Linked DNA regions of Homo sapiens. The protein of the gene in region 2 purifies or fractionates together with the protein of the main gene of each other region. This does not show direct contact. Each region holds a gene or a part of one and is shown on either strand. Other genes may lie near its edges. The genes, in order: KLC1, PRPS2 and MGA.

Region 1 (3,652 bases), on a different chromosome or scaffold from region 2:
GCAACCTCTGCCTCCTGGGTTCAAGCGATTCTTCTGCCTCAGGCTCCCGAGTAGCTGGGATTACAGGTGCCTGCCACCACACCCAGCTAATTTTTGTATTTTTAGTAGAGACAGGGTCTTGCTATGTTGGTTGATCTTGAACTCCTGACCTCGGGTGATCTACCCGCCTCAGCCTCCCAGAGTGCTGGGATTACAGGCGTGAGCCACCGTGCCCAGCCTTGGTAGCTTATTTTTAAATTGCATTTGCTACAATTCTCCTGCCTCAGCCTCCCGAGTAGCTGGGACTACAGGTGCATGTCGCCAGGCCTGGCTAATTTTTTGTATTTTAGTAGAGATGGGGTTTCACTGTGTTGCCCAGGCTTGTCTTGAACTCCTGAGCTCAGGCAGTCTGCCCGCCTCAGCCTCCCAAAGTGCTAGGATTGCAGGTGTGAGCCACCGCACCTGGCCACTACTTTTTGGAACTCTATTTTGTACTTGCTGACTTTCACAAAAAGTTTGAGGCAGCTTACAATAGGATGTAATAGGATGAAAGAAGAAACAACAATATATTAATACGTGGCCAGAATTAGTGTGCTTCAGAGGTTGTAGAAGCCTTATTAACCTTTCTCACGTTTTTCAGGGGAAAGCCTTGCCAGGCAGTTACTACTACTCAATTGAGAAAGATGTGTGCTAAGTCTCAAAAGCAAGTACTTGTTCTCAGTCACATCAGTAGTGAGTAGCACGCTTAAACTGAGAGTTTCTGGTTCTGGGGTGTTTCTGTTTTACTCCAATCAAGAAAGATTCTTCGTTCCTCCATACTCAACAAAATGGAGGGAGACTGGGTACCAAGTTCAGACACAACAATATATTTACTTTTGTTTGTTGTTTTTTAAAATATTTTTTCAGTATACATGTAGCATATCATCTTCTTACAGCAAGACTGTGCAATAGATCATATACTTGCTTTGTAGATGGGAAGGCTGGGACTGCGTGAGGTCACGTAATGCACCCAAAGCCATGTAGCCATTAACTGGTAGAGCCCAAGCTCAGACACTAGAATTAATTCTGTCTGAAACCAAATGCAAGCTTGGTCCATTGTTCTAGACTGTTGCACTTATTCTGTGCTGGCCAGCTGGCATAGGCAGGACAACACTGTAGTGTGGGGACATTATCTTCCCAGTGGCCTAGATGGGAAGGTTAAGTTCAGAAGCTAGTTGGGTCTGATTCCAGAGTTCACCTTGCCAGTCCATTTATTGGTGGATTTCCTTCCAGTGTTTTTTCCCCATCCATAAGCTTGTGGTTTTTCTTTTTTCTTTTTTTTTTCTTTTGAGACGGAGTCTTGCTCTGTCACCCAGGCTTTAGTGCAGTGGCGCGATCTATGCTCACTGCAAGCTCCGCCTCCCGGGTTCACATCATTCTCCTGCCTTAGCGTCCCCAGCAGCTGGGACAACAGGCGCATGCTGCCATGCCCGGCTATTTTTTTTTGTATTTTTAGTAGAGACAGGGTTTCACTGTGTTAGCAAGGATGGTCTCGATCTTCTGACCTCGTGATCCGCCCGCCTCAGCCTCCCAAAGTGTTGGGATTACAGGCGTGAGCCACCACACCCATCTTTTTATTTATTTATTTTTTGAGACAGTCTCACTCTGTCGCCTAGGCTGGAGTGCAGTGGCACGATCTCTGCTCACTGCAAGCTCCACCTCCCAGGTTCACGCCATTCTCCTGCCTCAGCCTCCCGAGTAGCTGGGACTAAAGCCGCCTGCTACCACACCCGGCTAATTTTTTTGTATTTTTAGTAGCGATGGGGTTTCACCATGTTAGCCAGGATGGTCTCGATCTCCTGACCTCGTGATCTGCCCGCCTCAGCCTCCCAAAGTGCTGAGATTACAGGCATGAGCCACTGCACCCGGCCCTGTGGTTTTTCTTAAATAGTTTAAGCTTAACTTTTATTTCTGTAGTTGAAAATTACATTTAAAAAAGCTGTAGTGAGGCCGGGCACGATGGCTCATGCCTGTAACCCCAGCACTTTGGGAGGCCTAGGCGGGTGGATCATGAGGTCAGGAGTTTGAGACCACCCTGGCCAACATGGTGAAATCCCGTCTCTACTAAAAATACAAAAATTAGCCGGGCGTGGTGACAGATGCCTGTAATCCCAGCTACTCAGGAGGCTGAGGCAGAGAATTGCTTGAACCCGTGAGGCGGAGGTTGCAGTGAGCCAAGATGGCACCACTGCACTCCAACCTGTGCAACAGAGTCAGACTCTGTCTAAAAAAAAAGAAAAGAAAAGAAAAGAAAAGCTGTAGTGATCTACATCTGAAACACTTAATGTGTGTTTTTCCATTTAGGGATCAGAATAAATACAAAGATGCAGCTAACCTACTGAATGATGCCTTGGCTATTCGTGAGAAAACTTTGGGCAAAGATCATCCTGCGGTTTGTATATCCAGTTCTTTCATTCTTTTAATATTTTATTTTCCCCATATATTTCTTTTATCCAACTCATTTTACCATTAAACTCAACAGGGAAAGTTTAAGTGCTGCCTTTTCCCTAGATGGTGCAGGTAGGAGGTCTTCACTTACTCAGTGCTAGTGACAGGCCAGAGCACACTTAATTTGTTTATGACCCCACCTCAAATGGATCACCAACTGTATTGTTTGATTGTAAATCAAATTGCATGTCCTTCTAGAAATTTTTTTCTGAAAATTATATTGTCTTCATTAAAATCTGGTCAGATTTGCATATGAATCTGTTTTGGTTGGCTTTGTGGCTTCCAGGGAAATTTTTAAAAAGTCAGGAATACGTTGTTGATTTGTTTAATTTTAGTATTCTGCAGTGTTACTTTGTATAATCTATACTCTAGTGAATTGCGCTTTTCATTTTAACTGAAGTCATATTGTTCTATCCGACTAAGAATGCTTTACTGTATAGATTGAATATAAATGAATATGTGGTGTATAAATGTACTCTTATTTGGTTATCTTTTACCATTCTTAGTGGTTCTCTCTGTGTTGACAGGTGGCGGCGACTTTGAATAACCTTGCAGTCCTTTATGGTAAAAGAGGGAAGTACAAAGAAGCAGAGCCGTTGTGTAAAAGAGCTCTGGAAATCCGAGAAAAGGTACAAAAGAAGGGGGCAGTCGTTTTCTTTGAGATTTTTGTTTTGTGTGTGTGTGGTTTTTTTTTTTTTTTTGAGATGGAGTCTCGTTCTGTCACCGGGCTGGAGTGCGGTGGCGTGATCTCGGCTCACTGCAACCCCCACCTCCATGGTTCAGGTGATTCTTCTGCCTCGGCCTTCCAAGTAGCTGGGACTACAGGGACACACCACCACGTCCACCTAATTTTTGTATTTGTAGTAGAGATGGGGTTTCACCATGTTGGCCAGGATGTTCTCAATCTCTTGACCTCCTGATCCGCCCGCCTTGGCCTCCCAAAGTGCTGGGATTACAGGCTGAGCCACTGTGCCCGGCGCTGTTTTTTGTGTTTTTAAAAATTTTTCGGTTTTAGGTTTTGAGAAATAACCACTGTGATGTGTTTTTAACTGACTATTAGCTGAAAACAACTCATTTAATTAGAGAATAGCCCACAAAACAAAGCCAGATTGGCCCATACAAATCAGTGTTTAAGACTCAATTACAGGCTGGGTGCAGTGGCTCATGCTTGTAATCCCAGCACTTT
Region 2 (3,652 bases):
ACGTGACACAGCGCTGCCCTCCACCCCGTGACTGCCCACCTAGGGTCTTTGCAAGTTAACTTTCTGCTCCCGTCTTTTATATATTTGTGTCTCCTCCCTGGCCACAGCCACTTCCTGCTGCTGGCAGAGGCCGATCTCCAGCTGCATGGTCCGTTCCTTCTCTTCTGTGCTGGGAACCCCAGCAGCCGTTGGAAGGCAGCTTTGAGCAGAATGAACAAGGCTCTTCTAAGAATCAGGGCCTGTGTTTCCCTGCAAGAGTGTTAAGACAACTTTCTGGGCTACTTCTAAGCTTTTGTGTTAGATCCTAGGTCCTCAGCTGGGCTGCAGGCAGATGAGGGTGCCAAATGAGGGACAGGCTTTTGATGTCAGACATTCCAAAGGCTGATCACTTGTCACTCTCATCACTCCTCTATTAGTGCACATTTAGAGCTTCCTTGCTTCCTCACTGGACTGGGGGGTAGAAGTCTCTCCTACTTCTCCCTTATGGAGGTCTCTACCTACACAATAAAACTCCCTTCCCAGCTTTTTTTCTTCCCAGATAGCATCTGCAAAGCTCTACAAGGTCATTGGGTCACCAAGCCTCAGCTTGCAGCATTCTCTTATTGTGCTCATCCTTGATTCTGAACACCCTGTACCCTGATTGCTTGTTAACGCCTCGAGTATCTCTGTGAAGCCCTTCAGAGGTGCTACTTAGTACCACGTTCTCACACCACTGGGTGCCTCATCACTGCCGTACTGTTACGACCAGGTTGTTGTTAACTCTCCTTCACCTCAGTTTCCTTTTAAACTTACTTATTTGATAGTCCAGTAATTATTATCTTATCCCCAAGTATTGGCTGCCTGCTGCCCTGTTGTCTGCACATGCTGGGCCTGCGTGGACTGTGTTCTCTTGGTTTTCTAACTTTGGATCAGGCATCGGGTCAGGTTGAGCAGGGAGCACTCACCGAGCAGCTAGGATTGTGAAATTCTCCCTCTGCAGGGGCTCTGCAGCCTGGAGCACATTTTCGTGTGCATTCCACTCCACATCTGAATGTGGCACAGGCTCGTGGTTTGACTTCTCATAGGTGACTATTTCCTCCCCTAAACCAAAGGCCGAGGTAAAGATGGGCTTTCCCCCTGGCTTTTGGCTAGAAATCTGGCCTTCAGCCCTCTTCTCTTCTTCTTCTTCTTCTTTTTTTTTTTTTTAGAGTCAGGGTCTCACTCTGTTACCCAGGCTGGAGTGCAGTGGTGTGATCATAGCTCTCTGCAGCCTGGAGCACCTGGGCTCAAGTGATTCTCCCGCCTCGGCTTCCCAAGGTGCTAGGATTACAGGCATACATCACCGTGCCTGGCTTTAACTCCCTTCTTTATGGGGGTTTCCAGGTGAGTATTAAAACCCAAGCCACCAGGCTCTTGCTGGATCTGATGCCCATCCCCCAAGCCACCTGGACATGGCTTTCCGCCTCTGCTTTATTTCTTGGTCTCAGATATTTCCTTCTTGGTATTCTATGTACAGAGATTTCTTTTAAAAAAAAATTGTTCTATTTTGGCTACCATTTCCAAGTGCTGTTAATTAAAAGACTTATTTTCCAATTAGGCTCATTACTTTTATAATCAGAAAACGATAACTTAAAAAAACCTCAAACACATCTACCCTTTGCTGAAAACAAATAAACCAATATATACCTATTGTGTATGTGTGTCTCTGTATTTTCTTCTTTCCTGAATGACGAAATATTAACAAAGATGATGGGTTTCTGCTCTGGAAGTGAAGCCTGCGGTCTACTTACTTGCTCATTAGCAAAATAAAGCTTTAAGTAATTTACAGCATGCTTCCTTATCTAATACATCGGAAAAGGAAAAACCAATCAGCAGATGGAGAAATCTGCAAGGTGTAGCCTGCATGATACCTTTTGGCTCCCCCTGCGTCAGGTGAAACAATGATACAGTTCTTCCACTCGGCAATGTTTTCCCGAATCCACTGCAGGACTGCGGGCTCCGCATACAAATTATCCACAGGAATATCAAAGAATCCCTAAAGGGAGAAGTGAGTGTCATGTTGCAGGGTTTTGTTTTGTTTTGTTTTCTTTTGTTTTTTTAAACGATAATCGCTTTCATTAAATAACATTTGCATTTTTTGTTCAAAAGAAGCTTTTATAACAGACTCCCTTTTGTTAATTTTAAACAGAATTAAATCAAAAGACAGATATGTTATAGGGGCATATTTCAGTCCAATCTGTCTCTTGGGACATATTCCATTGTCTTATGATGGCCTATATTCTGAGGAATAGAATGGCTATGCAGGACGGTGAGGGAAAAGGTTTGTTGTCTCTTAAGTAGTTATTATAAATCAAATACTTCACGTTCATTATATAACACAAAGTGGCACAGTATAATTTGGCCTGTTTTAGAGACAAAGAAAATAAGTTATGAAGAAGTTAAAAAGTGTACATTATGACTGCCGTTCTAATTATTTTCCATAAGCTGAGATGGAACTATATAGAGCTTACTACCAAAAAGCCATCCCCACTCCTCCAAAATTGACTGGGGGGCAAGGTGGTGATAGAGACTGGAAGTACTAATATCAAATTATATTTTCAAGTTTAGTAAAGACAAAAATCCAAGAGAGTAGCCATATATAAACTCAAACACAAGTAATGTTACCTAAGATTATTTAATTTAACAGACTTGATTTAACCATTTGCAGAAGGAAAACACGGATACCTGTATCTGAGAAGCATGCAGGTCCATGGTGATGATGTGATCCGCCCCAGCCACCGACAGCATATTGGCCACAAGTTTTGCAGAAATTGGGGCACGACTCTACAAGTAAGAACATTAATTTTATAACAGGAAAAGATGGATACTGTTAGATTCCTCCCACTAAGACGTACATGAGAAGGATAAATCATAGATGCAATCAACGAAGCATCAAAAAGAAAATTATACATGTTGTGACAGCAAAAGATATATTCATTCCATCTTATTCAGCAAATATTTACTATTTACATATACTACTGCAAAACTAAGTGCTTGACGCTGGGTATAGAGAACAAATATGAAAGAAGCAAACAGTTAAACATATGTACATGTAATGTCACAATCTGTGTAACTGAAATCATGGTAAGTGTGTAGAAATAAAAGGTACCGAGAGAGAGAGATGATAGTAGTAGGAAGGGCATAAAGTTTAAACAAGATCATTATTAGCGGTCCCTCTGAGGAAATCACTTTTAAGGCAAGTTTAGCAAAGGCGAGGAGAATAGTGTTCTAGAAGGACAGAGTGGCACATGTGAGATCACTGAGGTCAAGAGACCCTCACACAGCCAGAGGCTAAAAGAAGTCCAGCTATTAAAGAGGAATTCATGAGCCGACATTTGGACATGAGCTGACAGTTGGACGCTAACACTATTACAAATGGAAAAAAACAAGGTCAAAGAATGAATACTGTAAGGGGATTGATAATAGTTACTATTTAATTTCATACTTAGTGTCATTTACTGATATTATGTTCTTTGTAAAATTACCTAACTTTTCTATAGCTTTGGTTTCCACATCATAAATTATGGACAATACAACTGCCCACATCAAAGAAATCCAAGAAATTATATAGACACATGATTAGACCTAGGTGGCGTTCAGCATTTTGTTGTAAACAACAGTATTTCTATATATC
Region 3 (3,652 bases), on a different chromosome or scaffold from region 2:
TCTAAGAGATCAGGAGAAACAGCTACCACTGGTCCTGAGAATAGGGGACCTTTTAGGGTGAGCAATTGCCCTTGCGGAGTCATCACAAGGTTGGCAGAGGTGTGTGGAGTGTTCAAGGGTGAGGTATTTTCTGTAAGAAAGATCAGAAATTAGTTATAGATAAAAGGCATTCAGCTGGGTGTGGTGGCTCATGCCTGTAATCCCAGCACTTTGGGAGGCTGAGGCAGGCAGATCACTTGAGCCCAGGAGTTCAAGACCAGCCTGGGAAACATGGTGAGACCCCATCTCCATCTCTACAAGAAAAATTTTTTTAAATTAGGCGGGTGTGGTGGTGTGCACCTGTGGTCCCAGCTACTAGGAAGGCTGAGGTGGGAGAATTGCTTAAGCCCAGGAGGTCAAGGCTGCAAGCGAGACACTGCACTCCAGCCTGAGCTACAGAGTGAGGCCCTTCTCAAAACAAAACAGCCAAGTGCGGTGGCTGACGCCTGTAATCCCAGCACTTTGGGAAGCCGAGGCAGGTGGATCACGAGGTCAGGAGATCAAGACCATCCTGGCTAACACGGTGAAACCCCATCTCTACTAAAAATACAAAAAATTAGCCAGGCGTGGTGGCGGGCGCCTGTAGTCCCAGCTACACGGCAGGCTGAGGCAGAAGAATGGCGTGAACCTGGGAGGCGGAGCTGGCAGTGAGCCTAGATTGCGCCACCGCACTCTACCCTGGGCAACAGAGCGAGACTCCGTCTCAAAAAAAAAAAAAAAAAAATACCCACACCAGATTTTTTTTGGCTCATACACTGGGCTATCCAAACATTTAAAGAGTAAAAAAGAATATACCATTTTTTTTTTTAATTTTTTTTGAGATGGAGTCTCACTCTGTCACACAGGCTAGAGCACAGTGGTGTGATTTCAGCTCACTGCAGCCTCCGCCACCCGGGTTCAAGTGATTCTCCTGCCTCAGCCTCCCAAGTAGCTGGGACTACAGGTGTGCACCACCACATCCGGCTAATTTTGGTATTTTTAGTAGAGACAGGGTTTCACCATGTTGCCCAAGGCTGGTCTCAAATTCCTGAGTGCAAGCAATCCTCCTGCCTCTGCCTCCCTAAGGGGTGGGATTACAGGCATGAGCCACTGCGCCCAGCCAGATATACCATTCTCTAAGAATATAAGTAACACATAAAATCAATATAACTTTACTTCCAAAATCAAGATGGTAATAAGAAGTTAAGACTAATTTACTTTGGGGTTTTTGTTTTGTTTTGTTTTGTTTTGTTTCAGACAGAGTTTCGTGCTTGTTGCCCAGGCTGGAATGCAATGGTGTGATCTCAGCTCACCACAACTTCCACCTTCCGGGTTAAAGTGATTCTCCTGCCTCAGCCTCCTAAATAGCTGAGATTACAGGCATGAGCCACCACACCTGGCTAATTTTGTATTTTTAGTAGAGACAGGGTTTCTCCATGTTAGTCAGGCTAGTCTCAAACTCCCAACCTCAGGTGATCTGCCCGCCTCAGCCTCCCAAAGTTCTGGGATTACAGGCGTGAGCCACCGCATCCGGCCTACTGTTTCTTAATAGTAATGTATTAATAAGTAAGTGATCTGATGAAAAATAGAGCCTGATGGCCAGGCGCAGTGGCTCACGCCTGTAATCCCAGCACTTTGGGAGGCCGAGGTGGGCGGATCACGAGGTCAGGAGATCGAGACCATCCTGGCTAACACGGTGAAACCCCGTCTCTACTAAAAATACAAAAAAAATTAGCCGGGTGTAGTGGCAGGCGCCTATAGTCCTAGCTACTGGGGAGGCTGAGGCAGGAGAATGGCATGAACCCAGGAGGTGGAGCTTGCAGTGAGCCAAGATCGCGCCACTGCACTCCAGCCCGGGCAACAGAGCAAGACTCTGTCTCAAAAAAAAAAAAAAAAAAAAAAAAAGGAAGAAAGAAAAATAGAGCCTGATTTGACAAAATTAAATTTTACAAAAAATTTCCCATTTATTGGTCTCAGCTAGACCCAACTTCTTAAACCCATCAGTAGAACTGCAGGGAAATCACGAAGTCAAGTATAAGTCTGAAAAGATAAGTTTAAAAAACTACTCATTAAAAATACATGACTATAGACTAATATGCTACCAGGACTGGTAACTTCTCAGGATTTGCATGAGTGTGTATTACAACCAGAAACCAAAATCGAATGTAGTTAATATTCTACTTTTTATACAACCCATCTTTAATTCATTTAATTAAAACTAAAACTGTGGGCTGGGTGTGGTTGCTCACACCTGTAATCCCAGCACTTTGGGAGGCCAAGGCGGGTGGATCACTTGAGGTCAAGAGTTTGAGACTAGCCTGGCCAACAGGGCAAAATCCCATCTCTACTAAAAAATTAAAAAAACAAATTGGGCATGGTGGTGCTCGCTGTAGTCCCAGCTACTCAGGAGGCTGAAGCAGATAATCGCTTGAACCTGGGAGGTGGAGGTTGCAATGAGCTGAGATCACATCACTGCAACTGCAGCCTGGGCGACAGAGCTGTCTCCAAAAAAAAAAAAAAAAAAAAAAAAAAAAAACCACACAAAACTAAAAATGTGGACAAGAGAAGGTGGTCAGTCCACTAAAGTCAACTGATGTATATCTACATTAAGGAAAGCGAAGAATGTCCCTCCTACCTGTGGCCTGGTCTTTTTTTCTGGAAAGAATCAAAGGTTTCCCCCTCCTGTTATTTATAAACATCTGTCCAAGATCTACAGATGATGCAGAAGATCCTTCCTGCTGTTTGCTAATTCTGGGAGATATGTCAAACTCATCTGATCCCATCTTCTTTTTTCTTTTTTGTGCCTCTAGTGCTTGCTGTTTTGCATAAATATACTCTAGCTTCTTCAGGACCACTTCTTCTGTCTTACCTGTAAGTTAACAGAATACATTAGCACTTTCAGCATTACGCCACATAATGAGAAACAGAGTCAACAGAAATCTAGTTGCTTTAACTATATTCCCAAAAACTATGGAAAGTAAGGTGATTACAATTCACAAGAAACAACCCACCACCCAGTCAAAGGATAACTGTGCTGTAAACTGTGGGAGCCAAGCTTTCAATTAAGTATCTGAAAGATCTACTGAGGATTTCTTCTTGATAAAGCTATAATTATGCTCTTTACCAGAGATTATTTACTTATCTCACCTGAAAGAGACGATACTTTCCGTATCAGAATATTCCGTTTTCGAGTCAGGAGATTTTTCTGTCCTATCAATTTGTCTGCCTGATCTGTTAGTCCCTGAATTTCACTGAAGGCCTAGAATACAAATAGTGGTATTATTGAAAATTGATCCACTCTTTCTTTAAACACAGCTAAGGCCTATACAATTTCTCTAATGAAAAAAAACTTAATCTGACATCTTAAGAGAATTTTTAAATTCCATTAACAATTGTTGATGTTTCAGAAATTATTTTTTGTTAAACTGTAAGAGGATTTCTGGCTTACACTTTTAAGGAATGTGACCATGATTATTTCCAAAGAGCATCACTGAATGGTAGTAGGTATTCCACCACTGCGAGGAGATACAAAACACCTGTGCTCTGCTTAGATTTTAATAATCAACTTTAAGATCAACTCCTAGTCTAACCAAAATCTGGTTGAAATAACTGCTCTAGAGGGATATGAATGCTT

What was found.
Region 1: the proteins of PRPS2 (region 2) and KLC1 purify together in Homo sapiens (affinity purification with mass spectrometry; one large-scale study listed by BioGRID and IntAct). This does not show direct contact.
Region 3: the proteins of PRPS2 (region 2) and MGA purify together in Homo sapiens (affinity purification with mass spectrometry; one large-scale study listed by BioGRID and IntAct). This does not show direct contact.

The regions. Positions count from the first base shown.
Region 1 is NC_000014.9:103,667,189-103,670,840, forward strand, and holds part of KLC1 (kinesin light chain 1), read left to right. Parts: intron 1-2,322; coding exon 2,323-2,410; intron 2,411-2,993; coding exon 2,994-3,095; intron 3,096-3,652. UniProt on the Homo sapiens protein: Kinesin is a microtubule-associated force-producing protein that may play a role in organelle transport. The light chain may function in coupling of cargo to the heavy chain or in the modulation of its ATPase activity.
Region 2 is NC_000023.11:12,808,384-12,812,035, reverse strand, and holds part of PRPS2 (ribose-phosphate pyrophosphokinase 2), read right to left. Parts: intron 2,803-3,652; coding exon 2,704-2,802; intron 2,015-2,703; coding exon 1,890-2,014; intron 1-1,889. UniProt on the Homo sapiens protein: Catalyzes the synthesis of phosphoribosylpyrophosphate (PRPP) that is essential for nucleotide synthesis.
Region 3 is NC_000015.10:41,761,364-41,765,015, reverse strand, and holds part of MGA (MAX gene-associated protein), read right to left. Parts: intron 3,278-3,652; coding exon 3,166-3,277; intron 2,888-3,165; coding exon 2,654-2,887; intron 131-2,653; coding exon 1-130. UniProt on the Homo sapiens protein: Functions as a dual-specificity transcription factor, regulating the expression of both MAX-network and T-box family target genes. Functions as a repressor or an activator.